2 linked regions of the Homo sapiens genome follow. The protein of the gene in region 1 purifies or fractionates together with the protein of each later gene. This does not show direct contact. Each region holds a gene or a part of one and is shown in the gene's direction. Other genes may lie near its edges. The genes, in order: RXYLT1 and GALNT12.

Region 1 (3,411 bases):
GACTATTCTCCCCTTTCCCTCCCTAATAATCCCAATTTTGAAACTCATGTCAGCAGACAAAACCATCCATCACCCTTACTCTCTGAAATCATGCACTTACCCTTGGGTTTCTCCCCCTACTTCTTCGAAGAGTTTAGCTCCTGGTACTCTCTAGCTCTGTCTGACACTACTCTGTTCTCAATTCTTAGTGACTGGCAAATCTACATAGATGGTCTTTCTGTCATTTTGGTCTTTGCAGTTCCTTCACCTCCCCTCCTCCAATAATCTGGGCTTCCACCTGACCTCAGCCATTCTCTCTCATGGTTATTTCCTAGACTTTGTCATTACACATACTGCACCTTCTGAACATGATCTCAAGTCCCAGCATCTCTTTCTACAACCACCATCATCTGTCATTCCAGCTCATTCCGTGTAATAATCTGACTCTGACAATTCAGCTGGCACTTAGAATCTATTGTTCCTACTACCCTTTTGTTGTCCTTCACTCCCCTTTCTTCATTTTATTCTTCACCTAACTTAAATTTCATTGTCAATCATAATTGCCTATACCTTCAGCTCCCTAATTCCCTAATCTGGCAAACCATAACTCTGGTTAAATCCAGCTCTCTGCCTACTCCATGCCTGCACCCATGCAACTACACATAATTGGAGAAAGGTGCTAATTGACCTTTATTTAAACACGTGACTTTGAACCTCAGGTGCCCAGCAGTCTTATATTTCCCTTGTCCATATATTCTCCCACTCTCCTAGAAGGCTGTTTTATACCTTCTTCTCTCCTACACTCTAACACCTCCGCCTTTCTTACTTTATGACCCTATTGCTTATTTCACTGAGAATAGTCAGGAGAAAGCATCTATCTTTTTTTTTTTCTTTTGAGACTGAGTTTCACTCTTATTGCCCAGGCTGTAGTGCAGTGACAGGATCTCGGCTCACTGCAACCTCTACCTCCCAGGTTCAAGCGATTCTTCTGCCTCAGCCTCCCGTGTAGTTGGGATTACAGGTGCACGCCATCACGCCCGGCTAATTATTGTATTTAGTAGAGACGGGGTTTTACCTTGTTGGCCAGGTTGGTCTCGAACTCCTGACCTCAGGTGATCCACCCGCCTTGGCCTCATGAAGTGCTGGGATTACAGGCGTGAGCCACCGCACCCAGCCGCGTCTATCTTTCTTTACTGATCTTTCAGTTTCTACCCTTGCCCCTGTACAGTCCATTCTCAACACAATAGCCAGATTGATTCTGATGAAACCTACATCACGTCATGTCACCCCATGATCAAAAGCCTGCATGATAGAGTCCCGTGTGACCATTCAGACTTTATCTTCTGCGCCTGTTCCCTCAGTTACCCTACCTCAGCCACCCTGGCTTCCCCGCAGCTCCTTGAACATGCCAGGCACATGCTGTCTCATGGCCTTCACTCTTGCTTGCTCTTTTATCCCGCCAGATCTACGTGGCTTGCTCCTTCATCCCCAACTCTGTGCTCAGATGCTGCCGCAGTAAGACAGTCCCTCATCACTTATTTAAGATTGCAACCCTACCCCCTTAGAAACTCCTGCTCTACTTACTCCTTTGCTCTTTTCTCACAGTATTCTACCCCATCTAAATAATTTACTGACTTCACTTGGTCACTATCCATCTCCACCACTAGAACTAGAATATATGCTCCATGAGGGCAAGGTAGGGAAGAGAGGACCTAGCACTCCCAAAGTATCGGTTGAATTATTATTATCCATTCAGAAGTGTTACGGTGACTCCTAGATTTTATAAATGTACAACTGTAAAATGTTCCAATTCTTCAACATTTTTAAGAAATCTGTTTGGGCCAGGATTTTGGATATCTCTTATGCCTATCATCTCTATAAAGTTTCACCATTTCCTGAAACTGATTTTATTAAAAGATAAGGTATTTTTGTTCACAAACTATATACTTAGTAAAGTGAAAACTACAGTTGTTTTTCTGATTTTCTAGCTGGCAGCCTCAGGAAACAAATGAAAGTCTTAAGAATTACCAAGATGCCTTGCTTCAGAGTGATCTCACATTGTGCCCGGTCGGAGTAAACACAGAATGCTATCGAATCTATGAGGCTTGCTCCTATGGCTCCATTCCTGTGGTGGAAGACGTGATGACAGCTGGCAACTGTGGGAATACATCTGTGCACCACGGTGCTCCTCTGCAGTTACTCAAGTCCATGGGTGCTCCCTTTATCTTTATCAAGAACTGGAAGGAACTCCCTGCTGTTTTAGAAAAAGAGAAAACTATAATTTTACAAGAAAAAATTGAAAGAAGAAAAATGTTACTTCAGTGGTATCAGCACTTCAAGACAGAGCTTAAAATGAAATTTACTAATATTTTAGAAAGCTCATTTTTAATGAATAATAAAAGTTAATTATCTTTTTGAGCTAACATGTGATTTTTAAAATCATTTTGACTACTGGGTGTATAAATGTGTTTGTGTGTGTATGTATTTATAGATGTTCTTTAAGGTACCCTTGAAAACTCTACATTATGTATGCCACATAATGACATTTCAGTCAGTGGTAGACTACATATATGATAGTGGTCCCATAAGATTATAATGGAGCTGAAAAATTTCTATCGCCTAGTGATGTCATAGCCTAGTGATGACATATGTATTGCAATACATCACTCACGTGTTTGTGGTGATACTGGTGTAAACAAATCTATTGCACTGCCAGTCAAGTAAAAGTACAGCAATTATGTCCTGTACATAATATTTAATAATGACAATAAATGACTATGTTACTGGTTTATGTATTTACTATACTATACTTTTTACAATTTGTATTAGTTCTTGCATTGCTATGAATAAATGCCTGAGATTGAGTAATTTATAAAGAAGAGAGGTTTAATTGGCTCACAGTTCAACAGACTGTACGGGAAGCATGAAAACTTCAGGAAACTTAACAATCCTGGCAGAAAGCGAAGGGGAAGCAGACATGTCTTCACGTGGCCAGAGCAGAGGGAAAAGGGGGTGGGTGCTACACACTTTTAAACAACCAGATCTCACAAGCACTCACTACCAGGAAAGCAGCACCATAGGGGAAATCCACCTCCATGACCCAATCTCCTCCCACCAGGCCCTGCCTCCAACACTGGGGATTACAATTCAACATGAGGTTTGGGTGAGGCACAGATCCAAACCATATCATCATTATTTTCGAGTGTACTACTTGTACTTATTAAAAAAAAAAAAAAAGTTAAACAGCCTCAGGCAGATCCTTCAGGAGGTATCCAGAAGAAGAAGGCATTGCTATCAGGAGATGGCAGCTCCATGCCTATTATTGCCCCTGAAGGCCTTGTGGTGGGGTGAGATGTGGAGGTGGAAGACAGTGATGTTAATGATTCTTACTCTGTCTAGGCTTAGGCTAATGCGGTTGTGTCTTCATTTTTA
Region 2 (2,790 bases), on another chromosome or scaffold:
GAGACGGAGCCTTGCTCCACCAAGGCTGGAGTGCAGGGGTGCAATCTCAGCTCACTGCAACCTCTGCCTCCTGGGTTCAAGCGATTCTCCTGTCTCAGTCTCCTGAGTAGCTGGGACTACAGGCGCCCGCCACCACGCCCAGCTAATTTTTTGTATTTTTAGTAGAGATGGAGTTTTGCCATGTTGGCCAGGCTGGTCTTGAGCTCTTTGGCCTCAAGTGATCCACCTGCCTCAGCCTCTCAAAGTGCTGCGATTACAGGCGTGAGCTACTGTGCCCAGCCTTGTATTTTCTTATGTAGGCCTAAAAACCTCTGAAATGTCATTTCTTGGATTCTACAAAACATGAGTTTGGATTTTTTTGAATGAAAAAAGTTCCATTTAGTGAACAGCACATCACAAAGGTTTTTCACTGATGTTGTTATTCACTCTGCCTGTTTGCTGCTCAGCCATGATTAAGTTCGTTGCATACAGCTTATAACAGAGAGGCAGAGGGAAAAGATAAACACCAGGCCTGAGAGAGAGACTTGCTGAGATAATTGAGCAAGGGCTGGCAGAAAGGAGAGAAGCAGGAGGTCATTAAAGAAGACCATCGTCTTTGGGGTTTGGGAATTGGCACAAGGCATATAACCCACTGATTCTCTGATGTGTGACAGGTGAGTAGCTCAGGCCAAGTGACTGGCTTCCTCATCCATCTGGTCTGTGGCTGAGCTGGGACTACAGCCAAGTTTCCACACTCTGTTTAAATACCTAAGAGAAAGAGATCACCCTGCACGGAATGAGTTGACCTAAGAGGAGTGAAAGAGATAAACAAAGGATCTTTGTTCCTGATTTCCCTGAAGGAAGCCAAATGCAATAGGGAGATGTAGGGTATGACACATGCCCAGAGCAGCCAGCAGGTGGCACCATCGGTCCTGTGAGAGGCAAGCGGGACGCAGCCTGTACAAGCCTGGTGCTGTGTCCCCGGGACAGTCCTGAGTTGCTGCGTTACACGGAAGACACTTACCCCTCAATAAATATTTCTGAAATGGTAAAAATCAGACCCTGATCTCTTTAAAACATGTCTTTAGGAAAAAGAGACTTTTCTGATGACTTGCCTGTCATTCTGTTATCTTTTGTAGGATGGATCTTTATTTCACGAACAGTCCAAGAAATGTGTCCAGGCTGCGAGGAAGGAGTCGAGTGACAGTTTCGTTCCACTCTTACGAGACTGCACCAACTCGGATCATCAGAAATGGTTCTTCAAAGAGCGCATGTTATGAAGCCTCGTGTATCAAGGAGCCCATCGAAGGAGACTGTGGAGCCAGGACTCTGCCCAACAAAGACTTAGCTAAGCAGTGACCAGAACCCACCAAAAACTAGGCTGCATTGCTTTGAAGAGGCAATCATTTTGCCATTTGTGAAAGTTGTGTTGGATTTAGTAAAAATGTGAATAAGCTTTGTACTTATTTTGAGAACTTTTTAAATGTTCCAAAATACCCTATTTTCAAAGGGTAATCGTAAGATGTTAACCCTTGGTATTTAGAAAATTAAAACCTTATAATATTTTTCTATCAAGATGTATATTTTACAGTCGTGCCTTTTACTCTCATTAGCAAAAAAGATAAAGATTTTATTTTGGTATTTACAAGAATTCCCAGGTACGAAGATATCTGCATGGGTGGAAATCAGGTTCAAGCAACGTACTTTGCATTAACTGATAATACCTCAGCTGCGGGGTTAAAGTTTTCCCAGTATAGAGAGACTGTCACTAGGAACATTGTATTGATTTATTCAGGTCATTGAGATCTTCTAGATGTATTTTAAAAAGAATGCTTTTTGGTTATGTGTTGCTACCACAGTTAACACTCCATAATGTTCATGTCAGCCAAAGAGGACTAACCAAAGCTGAAATCTCAGAGAACAATTTGCTTTACTAAGCTGAGTCAACTTGAGAGCGAACTTCTAACAATGCCGCACTGTAGTGTGGCTGGTTCTACCACTATGACTTTAAAACATGTTTATATCATTTTTAATTTTTATGATACGGTAGTGTCAGGGAGAAATGTAATGTTCTATATGAAATTCCTTTTTCAAGTTTGTTCATTAATAACAGTTATTAATTTAAATCAGCGTTAGAGTTTGTGCTGCTGCAACTGCTGTGAAAATTTCTCTGAGTAATTCTGATTTGTGAATGATCCCAGACCAACCCTGAGATTTTGTCAACCTGATTAAGTCAATATGAATGATTAAAAAGATGTGAGAACACTGACTGCAGATCTTTTTGTACTGTAAACCAAAAATAAAATTCTAGGGCCGGGTGCGGTGGCTCACGCCTATACTCCTAGCACTTTGGGAGGGCAAGGAGGGCAGATCACTTGAGGTCAGGAGTTCGAGACCAGCCTGGTCAACATGGCGAAACCCCGTCTCTATTAAAAATACAAAAATTAGCTGGACGTGGTGGCATGCGCCTGTAATCCCAGCTACTCCGGAGGCTGAGGCAGAAGAGTCTCCTGAACCCAGGAGGCGGAGGTTGCAGTGAGCCAAGATCGCGCCACTCTACTCCAGCCTGGGCGACAGAGCCAGACTTTGCCTCAAAAAATAAAAAATAAAATTCTGGGGTCCCCCATCTGATTGAATGGACTCCTCTCTTGGCCAAGAAGATCCCAAAAAAACCTGAACCTAGTTCAGAACTGAAAAACTAGTTCAGGCCATGATGAGAAGGGAGCAGTATCCAGACAAGCCTCATTACCCTCTCCTCCCTTTGGAGTTTAAAGACAACTGACTGGCATTCACGTTAAAACAGATCTCTTA

What was found.
Region 2: the proteins of RXYLT1 (region 1) and GALNT12 purify together in Homo sapiens (affinity purification with mass spectrometry; one large-scale study listed by BioGRID and IntAct). This does not show direct contact.

Annotation. Positions count from the first base shown.
Region 1 is NC_000012.12:63,806,708-63,810,118, forward strand, and holds the end of RXYLT1 (ribitol-5-phosphate xylosyltransferase 1), read left to right. Parts: intron 1-1,967; coding exon 1,968-2,385; 3' UTR 2,386-2,855; downstream 2,856-3,411. UniProt on the Homo sapiens protein: Acts as a UDP-D-xylose:ribitol-5-phosphate beta1,4-xylosyltransferase, which catalyzes the transfer of UDP-D-xylose to ribitol 5-phosphate (Rbo5P) to form the Xylbeta1-4Rbo5P linkage on O-mannosyl glycan.
Region 2 is NC_000009.12:98,847,834-98,850,623, forward strand, and holds the end of GALNT12 (polypeptide N-acetylgalactosaminyltransferase 12), read left to right. Parts: intron 1-1,118; coding exon 1,119-1,259; 3' UTR 1,260-2,248; downstream 2,249-2,790. UniProt on the Homo sapiens protein: Catalyzes the initial reaction in O-linked oligosaccharide biosynthesis, the transfer of an N-acetyl-D-galactosamine residue to a serine or threonine residue on the protein receptor.